Regions from separate parts of the Homo sapiens genome. Here regions 2, 3 and 4 are each reported to be linked to region 1. Evidence: microRNA targets listed by miRTarBase, many of them from high-throughput screens and not tested one by one. Region 1 holds a microRNA gene; each other region holds the end of a gene's coding sequence.

What was found. The annotated mature microRNA hsa-miR-34c-3p reads AAUCACUAACCACACGGCCAGG and lies in region 1 at 2,606-2,627, opposite strand. An mRNA with a match to its seed (bases 2 to 7 or 8) in the 3' UTR can be bound and repressed. Matches are read on the target gene's strand: a 7mer-m8 pairs with bases 2 to 8, a 7mer-A1 pairs with bases 2 to 7 and ends in A, and an 8mer does both.
Region 2: the mRNA of DCDC2 is a reported target of hsa-miR-34c-3p. Seed matches in the 3' UTR shown: 7mer-m8 at 2,128-2,134.
Region 3: the mRNA of GUF1 is a reported target of hsa-miR-34c-3p. The part of its 3' UTR that is shown has no 7-base or 8-base seed match.
Region 4: the mRNA of INSYN2B is a reported target of hsa-miR-34c-3p. Seed matches in the 3' UTR shown: 7mer-m8 at 2,236-2,242.

Annotation. Positions count from the first base shown.
Region 1 is chr11:111,511,943-111,516,110 of GRCh38, reverse strand. MIR34C (microRNA 34c) reads right to left here and starts at 2,672; the gene lies at 2,596-2,672. It overlaps BTG4 (BTG anti-proliferation factor 4), which reads left to right and starts at 3,725. Exons shown (of 5, transcript NM_001367975.1): 1 at 3,725-3,930. It overlaps HOATZ (HOATZ cilia and flagella associated protein), which reads right to left and starts at 1,333. Exons shown (of 6, transcript NM_001100388.2): 1 at 1,101-1,333; 2 at 559-600; 3 at 1-71. The coding sequence starts at 1,326. MIR34BHG (MIR34B and MIR34C host gene) reads right to left here. Exons shown (of 2, transcript NR_147706.1): 2 at 2,223-3,093. It also overlaps MIR34B.
Region 2 is chr6:24,171,049-24,175,216 of GRCh38, forward strand. It overlaps DCDC2 (doublecortin domain containing 2), which reads right to left. Exons shown (of 10, transcript NM_016356.5): 10 at 707-3,786. The coding sequence ends at 3,682. Among named protein-coding and RNA genes, the nearest start is that of NRSN1, 47 kb to the left of the region's middle.
Region 3 is chr4:44,698,422-44,702,589 of GRCh38, forward strand. GUF1 (GTP binding elongation factor GUF1) reads left to right here. Exons shown (of 17, transcript NM_021927.3): 17 at 123-2,507. The coding sequence ends at 260. GNPDA2 (glucosamine-6-phosphate deaminase 2) reads right to left here. Exons shown (of 7, transcript NM_138335.3): 7 at 3,374-4,168. Among named protein-coding and RNA genes, the nearest start is that of GUF1, 22 kb to the left of the region's middle.
Region 4 is chr5:169,860,832-169,864,999 of GRCh38, reverse strand. INSYN2B (inhibitory synaptic factor family member 2B) reads left to right here. Exons shown (of 4, transcript NM_001129891.3): 4 at 541-3,697. The coding sequence ends at 727. The region is part of intron 27 of DOCK2 (dedicator of cytokinesis 2); the gene reads right to left. Among named protein-coding and RNA genes, the nearest start is that of INSYN2B, 120 kb to the left of the region's middle.

The sequences.
Region 1 (4,168 bases):
CTTTTGGAGATACTTTACTTTCTCCTCAGATTCCTGTATCTTTAGGGCTTCGGCAAAGATGTCTCTATTTTCTAGAGGGAATAAAGTCAAATTCAATCTGAAATAATTTTATTATGATTTTATACTAAAATTGATATAAAATTGGACATGGGTTGAAAGGGAATACATAGAGTAGGAAGGTAAACAAAAATACATGTGGTGTATTGGAACTTTACAAACCAGATTTGCAAACAACTGGAGACTGAGTTAATTAGCTATGGCTGCAGGGAACCTCTAATCTCTTTAGATGATGAGTAAGCTCGAGTCCAGAGACAAGAAAAAGTCTCGAAAGAGAGCATATCTGCAGGATCAGAGATTCCAATTTCTACATTCCTGTTCAAACTGTTAAAGGAATTTAGGCATTGTCCTCTGGATAAACAGGGTGGTCCCTGAGCAGGGACTTAGGTGTTCAATTCAGAAAGTTATACCACAGTGTAAAGTAGTACCCTTGTACTTATTGTCTATTTTCTGATGAACCTAGGAGTCAGAATGTTGAAAGGCATAAAACTTGGTACTTACTGTTACTCGCAAGGTGAAAAGACTGCGAGGAGTGGCTGTTTTCTAAAAAATACAAAAGGGAAGTAAAGAAATCATTGGAAAAGTCAACAACATTAAAGGCGTTTGAATTTTTTATACTATAACAATTGCATAACAGTTTCCACATCCTAGGCCTCACTAAGGGCTCACAGGTCCAGGAAGTTCATTGGTAATGTTGACTCCACCTTCATCTTTCTCCAGGGCTTTTCATGTTTGAATTAAACTATGTAAACTATCCTTTCAGCCAACACATAGCATTTCCTCAGATTATTCTATACTGTTTACCAAATAGATGCCATAATTTAAGGGAAACTTATATGTTTTTAGATGTAACATATATACCACTGATCCTTTTCGGGTGGAAGGGTTGCTGGAAGGGTTCAGGAAATATTTATACATGCATTTGTATGTACTTATAACTATTTGTATATACCATTGCAGTTTCTCCTGGAAAGGGCTCTGGTACCTGCAGGCCAGTTACGGTGAGGCAGATATGACTGACAGGAGGCCGCTATTCTACTCACCAGACCCTCTGCTCCTCCTGGGCCGCGCCACCGGCAGACGCTGACTGCTGTCTCTGCGCAGCACCAGCTGAGATTCGCTAGGGGGATACATCGACGCCGAGATCCAGAACTGCTTAGCCAAGTTGGCATCTTGTTCCGAGGAGCCAGCAAATACCAGTAATCCCGGGGGGCACATTTCCTGGGACTCTTTTCGGCCGCTAGGTTCTTCGCTGGGTCCCGTTTCCATGGCAACTGAGGACGCTTCTGCAAGCGTCCTCTCCCCTCCCCCCGCCCCGCCCCTGCCCCGCCCCTCCGAGAACCGCCAAGTTGGTACCAGCCCCTGCCGGCTGCCCTCGGTTTCCTAGGTAGGTGTTGGGATCCGCCACGCGCGTGGGGGCCGTCGGAAGCCCACCCCTGCGGTGATCAGGTTTTAGGACCAGTCCAAATCTTGGATATGGGAGAGTCAAAACGTCAACTTTGGGTTGTGTCCTGTCGGAGTCAGTGGGGGAGTAGTTTAGCTTCTTATATCCTCAGTGGGCTGCCACATCCTCTCCCCTCCCCCCAGAAAGATAGCTAAATAAACTTTAAATTCCTCAGCCCCATTGCCCCAATCCCCACTTCCAAACCAGATTGCCAGGGACAGCACCTGCTAGGTGGAAGTTCTGAGAACGTTGCGCTGGAGAATTCACGCCTGAAAGCCTAGCCCTTGGGAGCTAGAGGCCTGAACTGGGCGGATACGTGCCCATGTGTACAGTTTCTGTGATTTTAAAATTCTGAATCCTTTAAATCTTAGGAAACAAGCTGGATTTAAAGTGTAAGTGCATTTACTAATCACTCCCACTAAAAGTTGCATAGACTCCAACAGTTGTAAATGATTACTTAAAAGAAGGGATACATCTTAATGAGTGAACAGAGTCTCTTCATGGAAAAAAGAAGTATGAAAAATTTTGTTAATGTATTTCTTATAAAAGTATTAACAAGTCTGTGTGTATGAGTAGCTTTCCCGGGAGATTTTTGTCATGGCAGGAACAACTTAACCACTTCATTGATAGAAAAGTTAAGATTACTGTGGCAGGAACTGAGATGGACATCATAAAGTCAATTTAGCAAAGGAAATGGACACATAGCAATAACCACAATTTATGTCTTTATGGCACTTTATTCTTTCGAAATATTACTAACAATATTACTTTCAAAATATTACTAACAATATAGTCTCAAGAAGTTAATAATCACATGTTCATATAATAACATACATCAGTCAGCTAAGAAAAAAATCATATTCCCCCTTATATCTAAAATTTTGGTTAAGAGCCTGAAGGAATATTGAAAAAAAAACAAAACAAAACCCCACATACATACACATTACATACATTGTAAACTTAGTAGCTGAAATGTTGATTTTTTTCTTTTGGCTGAGCAATTAATAGGCAATGGATGAAATCAGCATTTTCCAACACCCCTCTTCCCCACGCACATTGATGATGCACAGGCAGCTCATTTGGACGAATTCCCAAATCTTTTTACCTGGCCGTGTGGTTAGTGATTGGTACTATTAGCAATCAGCTAACTACACTGCCTAGTAACTAGACTCATAGAAAAAATTGCAGTCTCAAGTTGGTACCCCAACACGTTGTGACAGGCAGGCAATTCATTGGTTGAGTTGGAGCTCAACTGAGTTGCTAGCTTGGTGAATACTCTACTAGACGATGGCAAATAGACACAGTGAATCACAGCATACAGTATTAACCGTTACATGGATGGAGGGGCTTCACCTCCAGGGATTTTGCTTTCCTGGCATGAGACTGTTTCATCTTCTGTGACTCCTAGAGAGAGCTAACAGTTTAACTGTATCTGGAGAAACCGCGGGTTTCCTCGCACTTGCAGCGGGCGCTCGCGGGGCAGGCTGCGCAGGACCCACGCCGACGCCGCGCTTCTCAGGCATCTTCTCTCGAAGGCTGCGGGCTGCCCGAGCCGGCGTCTTCTTCCCGGCCGGGCGGCGGTGATGCTGTGCCTTGTTTTGATGGCAGTGGAGTTAGTGATTGTAACCACCACAGTACAATCAGCTAATGACACTGCCTACAAACCGAGCACCGGGCACCCGCGGCTGCAGCTCCCGGACGGTCCGCAGCGCCGACGCGGGGTCGGGGCCCGCCTCGGACCCCATTTCACCGGGGGACGCCCTACCATGGCTGGGCGCAAGCGGCCCCCGAGGACACCCCCGGGCCCAGCGGGACCCCCGCCGGCCTCGCAGCGCACAACACGCGTAGCTGGGCCAGCGGGCGGCGCTGCCGGGGAGGACCCGCGCCCTCCCAGGCCGGGAGCCGCGCCCCGACCCCCATGACCCCCAGGAGTGCCAGGCCTCCCCTTCCCGCAGCCTCCCGCTCCTCTCAGGGCCCTCCCGCTCAGGTTCCCCTCGCTTTTCCTTTCCCCTTCGCCTCCTCGGCCCGGGCTCCCACTTCCTTCACGCCAGGCTTCAGTTCCCAGCCCCAAACCCTAGAGCTGGCTCTCTCGACCCCGTGCGCCCCGCCGCTCTGAGCGGCCGAGTGACTGTGGCGGGGGCGACCAACCGTCCTTGGAACCCCGCGGGCCGAGGGGCGGGGCGGGCGCGAGACGGGGCGGGTGGGGGAGGGGATGGGGGGGGGGAGGAGGCTGAGAGAAAGCGCTGTGGGCGGTCCCTGAAGGGCCTCCAAGGGAGACGCCTAGAAGATGGAGGCCCAGATTCTTGAGACGTTTCTCTTTCTGATCTAGCAGGAGGGACAAAGAGCTCCTCCACTCCCTCATTCCCCAAGAAGGCCCCCAGCCTACCCAGTTTCCGTGACCATTCCGCCCTGGGAAAGCGGCTTCCCAGGTACCTCAAATTATAGGTTTGAATTTTCCAAATGGAGGTGGGCTTGGGTAGCCTCTGACATATGGGAGGATGGCTTGGAGAGTCTCATCTGCACCTCTGTGCTCTGTTGGGGACTTGGCCTTATACTCTTAGAGGGCCATGCAGTGATGTGAAGCCTGGGCCTTCTAGTCAAATAGTGAGCCAGGCAGCTTGTTAGTTACATCAAATCGTGGTCCTCTTGAGATCAAGGCCATACCAT
Region 2 (4,168 bases), not on the chromosome of region 1:
TTAATAACGCTGTGCCTCAGGAGGCCTTTTTAATGTTTTAAAGTGTGTGAGTGCATCTGTATAAGTATTTGATACATATCTATGTCTACATGCTATATTTCTCTTCAGATTGGCCACAGTTTCCATGTGATGCTTTCTGTTGATGAATTAATCTACTTTTTAAACTTTGCTTTTGCAAGGTTTGTTGAACAAAAAATGAAAGAAAGCTTCCTGTTGTCTTGCGGCCACTAATTTAAATGCACAGATTTTTTTCTAGGTGAATGAACTTTATCCTTTGTGTATAAGGTAGGTCATTCAATGACAATGTTTAGGATGTTAGTTTATGAGCTATAAATTGGAAGAGTTGGCAGGAATAATACCATATTAATATGGGTTCACAACTGTGAGCCTAGAGATATCTCACTCTGAACCACGTATGTATGGGATAGTTCTGTCTTCACACACCACATAGCAAGAATTCACACCTTTACAATAAAACAGGAGGCATGATAGCATCACACTTTTCCTATGAGTGTGGCAACCTAACATTCCCCCAAAAACATATAGGAAAAATGTCTTAAAAAAATAAAGTCATCCTAAGGTCATAGAGAAGAATAAGAAGTAAAAAGTTATTTTATGGTCATAGTATCGTATTTTATAAGTCAATGGGCACTCAATAGCTATTTTAACAGAAGTTAACCCAGGTAAAACACCCTTAGCCTCAAAATGACTTTTGTCAAAATCTTCTTTATTTGCTCTGTAAAACTCTTAATGCCCCAATTTTACTAACAAACCATTTGTTTACAAGTGTCTTAAAATCCAGATAAGTTTAACAAAGTGGTTTCATAAAACTATAAAAACTATGTATATAGCATCACAAAGAATTAACATATTAAAGCATTATATTGGTTATCACATAAAAGCATCATAAGTTTTTCGTAGCACTCTCTCTAGAAAACAGTACATGAAGCCAAACCAAGATCTTGTCTGTCCACTCACATAAAAGGTCCCAGGTCTGTCAATGAGTTTCATTTAATTTGGAGAGCCAGTCTGCCACGGAGACCACCATTCTCCACAGAGAAAACTGCCACATTTGTGAGGTGAATGAACTTTCAGCATTTATGTTAAAGTCATCTCTGAAGTGACATCCACAATTTTAATTCCAAGTGAATGGTTTTTTCCTTGGCTAGGCACCTTTTTTTAGTAACATGTTTGCAAAGTGTCTTAAAGTGATAAGTCGTTATTCATCCCCTCAAAGTAGGTCACAATTGTATCTTGTCAACAAGTGGTAAAATATGCACACACAAGGGATGAATATGTCCCCATTTTTAAGTTTTTTTGGTACAGTTATTGTGGCTTATTACCCCCTTGAAGTATATTTAAAATACCAAACGTTATTATTCATGTAAAATATCAATGTTGTGCTTCATTAAAATGACGCTTAAGGTGTTTCCTAAAACCTAAGTTTCATAATATAATGAATAAAAGGACAGGAAAAAAAGAAATATTTTTATTAGAGGAGGAAAAGAGAAAGAGAAACTCTCCATTGAAGAAACAAAAGAGAATCACCTTGATAATTAGTTATAATTTCTTACATTTAATCAGTTATTTTTAGAAACTATTTGAAATCATTAACTCCAGACCCAGTAATAGTGCACAAATTTAATATTAAAAGACCAACTGGGACCGGGTGCTGTGGCTCACACCTGTAATCCCAGCATTTTGGGATGCAAAGGCGGGCGGATCACCTGAGGTCAGGAGTTTGAGACCAGCCTGGCCAACATGGTGAAACATCTGTCTCTACAAAAAATACAAAAATTAGCCAGGTGTGGTGGCAGATGCCTGTAATCCCAGCTACTCGGGAGGCTCAGGTGCTTGAACCCAGGAGGCAGAGGTTGCAGTAAGCCAAGATCATGCCACTGCACCCAGCCTGGGCGACAAGAGCAAGACTTCATCTCAAAAAATAATAATAATAATAATAATAATAATAATAAAGATCAATTGGTCTATTTGCCTACCAACCCAAGATTGTTGCTTATAGCCCACAGTGCTTTATATCATCCCATTTGAAAAAGTAACGCTAGTAGAAAGCACAATTTAGATTTTACACCAGAAACATAGTACCCTGTTTCTAATTCATGCTCCCAGATCACTATATCCTTGTGTCATTATCTCTTCCAAATACTGTTACATTATCTCTCTGTTTACACTTCTGATCTGTGGAAAATACCAAAATCATATTAAGAAAAAACACATCTATTTTCTATAGTATTATTAAGTGCTTTATATAACTGCCAACTCTTTATTCCAAATGAAACCTGGAAGAGAAAAAATGTTTTAAACTTGTAATTGTGAATTTTAGAAAAGCACTAGAAGTTAAAATTTCAAGCTTACAACTTCCACATAATTAAAAATATATCCTTTAAGAAAAATATATTATTTCTATATTTATGGAAGAACATCTCTTAAGAATTCATAAAAAGGACGAAATTATGTTTTAATTATGTTTTTATGTTTTCCCCATACATACCTCACAAGGCAACTATAAATCAATTTAGTCAGTCCATGAAGTTGTGATTCAGGAATTGGTTTCATTATAATAACTTCTAAAGTTTTACAATTTCTATCAGATGCCTTCTAATTACAAAGAAATCTGCTTGAAATTCTAACTATATCATGCTAGGAAAAATAAATATTTGCTGATATCCCTAGGGCAAAAACATAGTAAAACAGTCTTAATAGAAATAAGGCAAAAAACAAGTTAAATTGAGCAGTCACAAACTCTTCATATAGTCTACTTTTTTCTTCCTAATACACTTTTATTTTTGTTGAAAACTATTTGAAAATAATTTAATCTTTGGAATAGCCAATATCAGGTTCTCTAATAACATAAGGGAGAAGAGAGAGATACTATTGGTAAAGATAGACTGGATCAGTGAAAATCCACAGGATTTCCATTATCTGCAAACCATACATCCAGGCTTTATAATATAACTGGGTGCTCCTTTACAATTCCTTCCTGAGTGTGCGCCATTGGAGCCACAAGCATGCAAGCCTGAAAGCATTTAAGTGACGGCATGGCGATACTAGTCACTAACACTCTGAACCAATGCTTCCTCCCACCAAAATGAACGCCTTGCTCTGTCTTTGTAGTTCAAAGGTGGATTTTGGCTAAGGAGGAAGAAAGAAAGGCATGTTAACAAGTCATGGACACATTTTGATCTACTGCCATCTCCAAATTATGTCTGAAAGTAAATCGCAATCTGTTCATTCAAGAGTTTATTGCTTTAAGAAAATAGTACATGCTTTCCTATTACCAGTTCTTTAAAATTCTACGCCTTCCTAGAGAAAAATTATTTAGAATAAACTGCCTTCTAAACTTATAATAAAGCGTACAATAAGAGTGATCCTATTTTTCATCCTTTACAAGTGGCAATTGTCTTCCAGTGCAAATTCTCCTCTGTCCGTCTTATTTAATATTTCTATATGACTTTTAAAACACATGCAATAAAAGTAAGTAATTATCCTTTAGTAGCCATTTAAAGTTATCTGGTCTTTCCACTAGGCTTCTAATGTTATAATTCGTAGGTAGTATTCGACCATAGTGTCACATTATATTCAGCAATAACTATGTGCTTATCTTTCAAGTATGATAACCCTTCATTTTTCTTGCGATCCATATACTCTCTTTTTAAAAATGTTCTAAGCCACGGCAGCATAGTCCTTGTTTTGTTGGTTGTTTTCATTTTCTTCTGGACTGGTAATTTTTACTTCTGGCCTTGGTGGTCTTTGAGGGTCTACATCAGCCTAGAAGAAAATAGATCAAAACAAAGGTATTCAGCTGTTTGGTTCACAAAGGTAATGACATTTATAAAGAAAAAATTACTCAAGATTCTATTTAATTATATAAATATTTAACTAAAAAGAGTTCCTGGGGTTCCCTTTGTTTTTTTGTCTATCATTACCCAGTGGACATACTGTTTTCTCAACACTTGTACAAAAGTCCTTTTGGGGTTCATAATCTACTAGTGCTTGAAAGGCCCTGACTCATTTTGTATGCTGCAGGCTTTATTTTTCTCATTTTTTCTTGATTTCTCTTTGAGCTTTTCTTCAATTTAGTTATACTTTTCAGTTTAGCATTTTCAGAGACAAAGGAAGAAAAAATTCAGGGACATTCTCCTAATTTTAG
Region 3 (4,168 bases), not on the chromosome of region 1:
GATGTCTGCCTTATGGATAATAATTTGGTATGGTTGTTAAGGTTGTACTGATGCCGCTGTAATCATATGATTGTTTCTCTTTAGAGTGACTTAGACTTCCAATGTTTTAAAATATTTTTCAGTATGGTGGTGATATTACCCGAAAAATGAAGCTTTTGAAGAGACAAGCAGAAGGGAAAAAAAAGCTGAGGAAAATTGGCAACGTTGAAGTTCCAAAAGATGCTTTTATAAAAGTTCTGAAAACACAATCTTCTAAATAATTGGTGGGAAAACAAAGAATTTTCATTGCAATTTGTAATATGCTGACAACAGAAAGAAAATTATAAAATTTGCTTGTTACTTTCAGGGTATTCAGGTTCAAATAACCTACTAGTCTTTCGTTGAAAGGGAGTAGTTAGTGGGTAGGCAAGAGCTTAGATTTTGAAGCCATGTTGCCTGTTCTCAAATATCTGTTCCAACCACTCACTAGTAAGGTGACCGTGGCCAGATTAACCTTTGTTTCCTCTTCAGTAAAATCGAGATTATACTACTACCTACATAAGTTGTTGTTGTGAAGATTAAATGAGGTAATACGTTAAATATTCAGAGGTGCAAGACACATAGTAAGCACTCAATTGTAACTACAGTTAAGTCCTTAAATGCCATCGAAAGGTTCTTAGAAACTGACTTTAAGCAAAATGACACGTAGCACAATGTTCTTGAATGATGTCATTTCCTTAAGTGGTTTGTAACATCGATGAGGAAAAAAAATTGGTTTATGCGTCATTTCATTTTATTTTTATTTATTTTTTGAGACAGAGTCTTGCCCTGTCGCCCAGGCTGGAGTGCAATGGCACAATCTCGACTCACTGCAACCTCTGCCTCCTGGGTTCAAGAGATTCTCCTGCCTCAGCCTCCATTACAGGCGTGCACCACCATGCTCGGCTAATTTTTTGTATCTTTAGTAGAGTCGGGGTTTCACCATGTTGGCCAGGCTGGTCTTGAACTCCTGACCTCGTGATCCACCCACCGTGGCCTCCCAAAGTGCTGATTACAGGTGTGAGCCACCATGCCCAGCCATGTCATTTCATTTAAAGTCACAATTTCCATGAATCTCAACAAGTGAGGACCTGCTATATTTTGTTGCATGCAGTTTTTCTTTACGGACACTAAAAGGCCCCATACTTAAGATTCCATCTACTTTAAGTTTAAAGGATTTTCAGAATCACCTTAAGTGTCAAATTTGTTAGCAGGATTAATTGATATGAATTCACTTATTAAACAGTAAACTCAAATAACATAGACATCAAATAACAGACATCTGCTCTAGTTAATGATAAAATGTTTATAGATTTTATCAGGTGGTTAGTTTGAAACTAAATGGTTTACATCTAAATTAAGGGCAGGAGCTGTCTTTCAGACATTCAAAACGCATTTGTGTAAAATGACAGGTGTTTGGTATTACCAGGAACTCATAATGACATTTTAATAATTATTGTCTAAATTTCATAATCGAAGCGATTTTAGAGTAGTTAACTTGAGATTTCACAGCCAGTAAATGGCTGTATTTCTCCAGAGCTCTCAGCTCCCATGTTTATTCAGCCAACGAACAAACCAGACTGCAGACTGTATTAGAGCAAGACAACATCATTTAGCCATTGATTTTTATCTTCTACCTTGAATGAATTGAATGAAGAAAATGTCTTTTAGGGATAAACACTATCAAGGATGAATTTTATACTAAGGTTATATGAAAGAAAAATCTCAAAACCACTAAGCCAAAGGGAAGTCAAGCTGGGAACTGATTGAGGCAAACCTGCCTCCCATTTTATTCCTAAATAAGACAGCCACAAAGATAAAATTTGCTCACAAGGGAATTCCTTATGGACAAAGAACTCAAAGTCTTCACATGAAACAAATGCATAAATGATTGCTTTCTCTGTTTCATGTTTCACTAAGCCAGATTAAGGTATAACTGACTATTCCTCTACTCTCCTCTCACATGTAAATTGTATATTCAGTGAAAGGCTAATCAGAAACTCAAAAAAATGCAACCCTTTCTCTCTTACCTGCCTATGCTTGAAGCCCCCGCCCCTCTTCAAGTTGTCCTGCCTTTCAAGACCAATGTACACCTTACACATACTGATTGATGTCTCATGTCTCTCTAAAATGTGTAAAACCAAGCTGTGCCCCAACCACCTTGGGCACATGTGGTGAGGACCTCCTGAGGCTGTGTCATGGGCACACCTTAACCCTGGGAAAATAAACTTTCTAAACTGACTTGAGAGCTGTCTCAGATATTTTGAGCTTACAGTTATTGTGAAATCATTTTAATTATAAATTAAGTGGAGATTTACTTAAAATCATGTGTAGAAGTAGCCTGTGATATAGTCCTAGATACATACATTATCATCTTATGTATCTTCCCTCCCTCTTCCAGGTTCTGATAAAAACAGATGAAATCTGAAAGACCATGACAGTAGTATTTTGAAAATGACAGTATTTGAAATTAAAAAATTGTAAAAGTGTTCTGTTCTATCACTGCCAAAGGATAAGTTACAAATTGGTTCTTGGAACGTAATATGTACTATGTGCTTGCTATTTAATAATTTACCAGTCTTAGTCTTTTTTATTCAGACTAATTTTACCTTTTTTTAACCTATGACTCTTTAGTTATAGTAGTACAAAAAAGTAGTTTTAGTTATAGTTTTAGTTGTAGTACAAAAAAGCATTTTCTGTAAGCTTAATTTCTTTCCCCTTCCCGCTTTCCCAGTCAGATGACTTTAGTGATTTGGAGTTGTGTGCTTTATAAGTGCATTCCTCAGAGGACTTAATATTACTAAGATTTTAGCAAACACTGAAATATGTTTAAACACTGTTATCAATATTAAAATAGCACCGTTTATTGACTTTAATATGTGACAACCACTGTGCTGAGCTATGTATGCTTCCCTTATTCAATCTATGTAAAAATTTTGGGGAAGTAGCTGAGACTTTTTTATTTCCCTGACAGAGCTGGGATTCAGTGGTTGGTTTCTTGAAAAAGCTAGGTTCTTTGCCTAACAGCAGCTTAGCTCCTCAATTTAGGGAATGAAAGCAGGAATGAAAATGGCCAGAGTTTTCGCTCCTCAGCTTGTGGAGGAGCTTGAGTACATGAACCTCAACTAAGCCCCTAACATCAAGGGAAGGAAAATGGAAAGGAGAATTTTTAGACCTTTAAAGCAGAGAAATTACTGGTGAATCATGTAGCACAACAGGTACCTTTAGCTTTTTCACTGTGATGCTGTATGACTTTCTAAGGTAGTCAGCATAGTTTGTAGTAAATGATTCTTATTACTGGAAGTGTAAGTGGAGTGTTACTCACTAGTTATTTAAAAAACATTTATAAGGCTATTAAAACATCATCTGGAATTAAAGCAGCATAATTTACCCCATCCCCCACTTTTAACCATAAAACCCTATTACCAATTTTATTTCATTAATTTATTTGCTATTTTAATATTTTAAGAAACTACATTTTAATCACATAGACAAGCAGATAAGTAAGGCTTCTTCTACCAGGTGGGCTTATGAAATGCAAAATAAGCAAAAGGAGCATTTTTTTGCTCCCCACAGAGGCAAAGACATCTTTTAACCTAACTCTCCTAATGCATGATGGTAACAAACCCAAAATGAATGCAGGTTCACATGTACTATAATTGTTGGGAGTCGAATGCATGTATTCTTCAGGTTCACTTCTGGAAATTTAGATAACTTATTTATTACACGCTTTATTTGAGTTAAAGATAAAAAACAATATACTTTTATGTAAATTGCTATGGCAATGTAGTTTACAGTAATTCCTTTTATATATACTTCGTATTATTCTTTTAGACATTTTATAAGGAATAAAGCTAATTGTATATTAAGTTTAACAATAATCAGAAAATATTCTCCAAAAGAATTTCCTGAAGTGGCTTGCTAGGTATAAAGCTCATAATTGTCAAGATACTTATATTAGGGACATGAACCCAAGTCGTTAAATAAAAATAAGATATTTGTAAAAAAGTGCTATAGAAGAAGGTGCACAAAAAACATGCACTTACACATACTTTCCAAAAGGATGTAAACTGTACTTTTAGGCACTGTCATCTCTTCAAATTTCCTTTACCAATGATATATAGCACAATTTTTGATGTCTAGATGGTGC
Region 4 (4,168 bases), not on the chromosome of region 1:
GTAATAGAAGCTAACACATACGGAGGACTTAGCGCACGCCAGGCACTACTCTGAGCATTTCATTTATATTATCTCAGTTTACACACATTAATTCCAAAGAAAGCCTTTGAGATAGGTGCTCTTATTACCCCCATTTTACAGATAATGAAACTGAGCTGTCAGTTTTCTTGTCTGTTCCTCTGCATTATCTCAATTTTTTAATAATGAGACAGTTTTCATGCATAACACATGCCAAAACCCCATTAATGATTAAGAGAGAGACTGGAGCCAATATTTACAGAACACTTGCCATCAGGTCTCACTGACCCTTAATAACATCCCTGTGAGGAAGGCATTACAGGTGCCAATTCAATCACTGAAGAACTAGAGGTTCAGAGAGGTGGCATCACTTTCCCAAGGTCAAAGAGCCAGTAGGTACCTAAGGATCTAGGATTTGATCCCAAAGCTCATGCTCTTCCATATTAGTTGGGGCTGAGAGATGCTTAATCAGTCTGTGCTGATTCGAATTCACTTTCCTTCCTTCCTCTCTGTGTTTTTCAGTGTAGAGTATGATTTTCGGCAGCAGGAAGGCAGGTTCCATGAAGTTTTGCAGAGTCTGGAGGAAGCAGAGCCAGTTGAGGAGGCATCGCCCCCACCAAAGTCCCCAGCAGAACCCCCAGCCCCGGAAAAGCAGGACTTAAGGCGGAAAACCAAGAAGGTGAAAAAGAAATGCTTCTGGTGGATCTGAGCTGGTTGGGACCATCCCCCAGCCCCCCAACTCCACGCACTTCCCTGAGATGGGAAATCCACTGCACTTAAGGCCTGCCCTGCTTCTTTGCAAAGGCCCTGGGCTGTGAGCCCCTTGGCCTGTGAAACAGAAGAGCCTTGGAGCTGATGTAGCCGCTGCTGGACACCTGACCACGATCCTTACCTGAGTGCGTGCGACTGCTTGCTGAGGGCTTCACGGACACTAGAGTGACCGCTTGCCAAGTTCCCTGTCACACTCAGCCAGAACTCATGCTGAGTTTTAAGACCAGATTCCCACCACGAGCAAAACCCCACACTACACCTTCCAACACCTCCAAGATGCCAAGCACTTCCTTCCCATCCTGGGTTCATAAACCCAAAAGAAAAAAATAGTGTTGTGCAGACCCGGAAGGTAGAGGGAGGTTATAGGTTATAAGCAGGTACCATAGAAAAAAATGAGATAAACTGGCAGTTTTCTAAGATATCAGCATACATAATAAGCACAAGAGAAGTGGGCAGGGCATAAAATGCTTATGCAAGATCACCCTGGTGTGTTGGGTTGTTTTCCTTTTTAATTAGCCCCTTGATCCCAAATTAAGGCTCTGTCATCTCATGGTGCATGCACCTTTCTGCCTGTGGCAGAGTCAGGCCACCCCAGGGTATAAACTTGTTGGTGTGGCTGTGCTGGATAAGTGTAATTCAAAGAGGATTTCAGCAGCTGTAGCTGTTCCAGGGCCCACCCTAAACCATCATGCTTCTTCTCTGCCTAGGGCCTGAGACCACCTGGCAAATGGGTGGAATCTGTTTTTGGTGTGAACTTTAAGACTCCATAGTTAACTTACCTGCAATATTTAAAATCATGAGATCCAGCAACCTGTCCATCAGTTACATCTTATGAGTAACATAGATAAGGCTAAGATAAAACACAACACTGTTTCTCATCCCTTCATCCCAGAAACAGCCGTGTAGATAGGTTCAAACATATATTAATCGACACAGTCTCCCTTCCTGGTGACCAGACAATGGTCACCTGATTGAAAAACTAGCAGGACTATGGATGAGGATATAGTTTTTTCTATTTGAGGTTTAAATATCTTTCCATCCCAAAGTCTGAGTTATTCAAGGTCTGGCTCATTCTGTTGACAAGACCTACATACATGTGGATCCAGTCAAACTTGCATGGCTGAACAAACTACTAAAGTAATATAATTAAGTAATTGCTATATACTCTTGTGGATGAGGGGTAGGATGGAAAGGCTCAGATTCCTTCTGGTTGAATTAAAATCTCTATCAGCATGTGGTTAGATTGACATTGCTAGAAAGGGAGCCTGAAACTAAACATACATTAAACGAAGAAGGTATTTTGTAATTCCCTTGGCTGAAGATCCAGTGTCTAAGCTAGAATCTTTGCAGAGCACAGAATCCTGTGTGTTCGTGGGATGTACCTACCCCACTGCAAATTGAGCCTAATTGAGCAAACCACTCCGATGGTTTCACCTTCCCCTGTCATAGTGATGCAGTGAACAAAGCTATTTCAGTGAGAATGAAAGGGAAATTTGGCAAGGAATATCAGCTTGCACTATTTAAGTCTTGGAATGTCATTCAAGATGTTCTTGTTCTGTTTCTAGTGTAATGTTTAAGCCCACAGAATCAGACCGGAATATATAACGTCATGTTAGAATTAAGATAAATACACTTGTCATACTTAAGAAGCCACATTTCAATAAGATATGCTACCACTGGCTAAAAGCCACAGATTTTTTTTTTCCTGTATCCATACGATCAACTGTCAGTTGGCCCCAGCAATGGAAAAGAACAGAATAGAGGATAATCCAATAAAGTGAAATCATTTGGGACCTCTTATGTAATTTTATCTTGTAGTAGAGCTTCCATCTTAATTTGCTTTGCTTACGCTAATTTCATGTGAATTTATATTCTCGGGCATCATGCTAGAATGTAAATAACCCTGTTCCCAGAATTAAGAGATCCAGGCAACCAAGCAGTCTATACCACTAGCCTTTGGCAAATGGCTTAAATTTCCCGGCCTGTTTGTCCATTCTTGAATACAGATAAGAACATATGCTTTCCTACTTTATAAACTCTTAGCACGTTCCACATTATGTGAGCTGAGTGACTCAGAGCTGAGCTGGATTACTGGCCAAAGTTAGCCTGGGAAGATAAAGAGATGTTTGAGGTACCTCACACAAAATTAATAAGCTGATGTGGTCATAGATATGTTTCCAGTTGAGGCCCTCACATGAACCCTTAACTGAATTAAATAAAACTGGGACTAGAAAATGTTGACATTTTCTGCACTTCCCCAACAAAAAAAAAAGAAAAGAAAAGAAAAGAAAAAAATAAATAAAATGTTGACATTTCTAGAAATACAGCCAAACAAGGCTGTACTGATTCTACACCAAAGCACAACACCGCATTGCTTGGGCCACTGACCTGAAACTGGGAAGGAGTTCTCTTCTGAAAAATTGATATTTAAAATCATTATGAGGAAATAGGATTCCATAAACATTTTCCTGATGAACAAAAATGGTCGTCTCTATGTTTAAAACACCACACACACATATACCAAAACTGCATACTCACTTATTCATGTGAAAATCACTGCTTCTTTGTAAAATATTACGTAACATCTACCATGATATTCTACAGAAATGCTGTACTTGAGGTTATCTGGTTTGCTGGAGAGATATTAACTTAGCAAAAATTACTTTTATAAAATTGAAAGGAAAAAGACCAATACATCAACTTAAATTGCAGGAGTTTATGTAGCTGCTTTCTCTGTAGTTTAAAAAGCAATGCATAAATGCATACTCACTATCCTTGGAACTTAATACCAGCTCATCTATAGAGCACCTTCTTAAAGACGATGTACTGATGTAAGGTTTTGTAAATTTCTAAACTGTTTTAAACGGGATATTATCTTTTGCAATAAACTTACATATTTTTTCTAGGTTTTAAGACTCCATTACTAGCTTGGGTTGATTTCAGTTATAAAATGTATGCTTAAGAAGGACACCTCAATGGTCCTAAGGGCAAGTATGGCTTTCATTATAATTGCTTCTATATATTTCTAAGGGAAATAAATAAAGAGCAGATTCAGAACTTAGTGTCACGATGATCACATGAAGCCCCGCGTGTCCCGTGAGTGAGGGAGGCAGCATGAATAAATGGAGAGCTGCTCCCAGCCTCATTCCATGGATGTACAGGCATGATTTGTATCATTATACTCAGACACCTGAACTCTAATTTATCCAGTACTTTTCTTTATTTCCCCCTTAATTTTTTTCCTTAAAAGGCAAATTTATATCGCCAATGTGAAGAAAAACAATATCATGTTCCAAAAATAGAATATGAAATAAAAATATCTTATTAAGTTCTTGCTAAACCCTGTTGCTATTGAGGCTGCTAAGCCTGAGACCAGCTC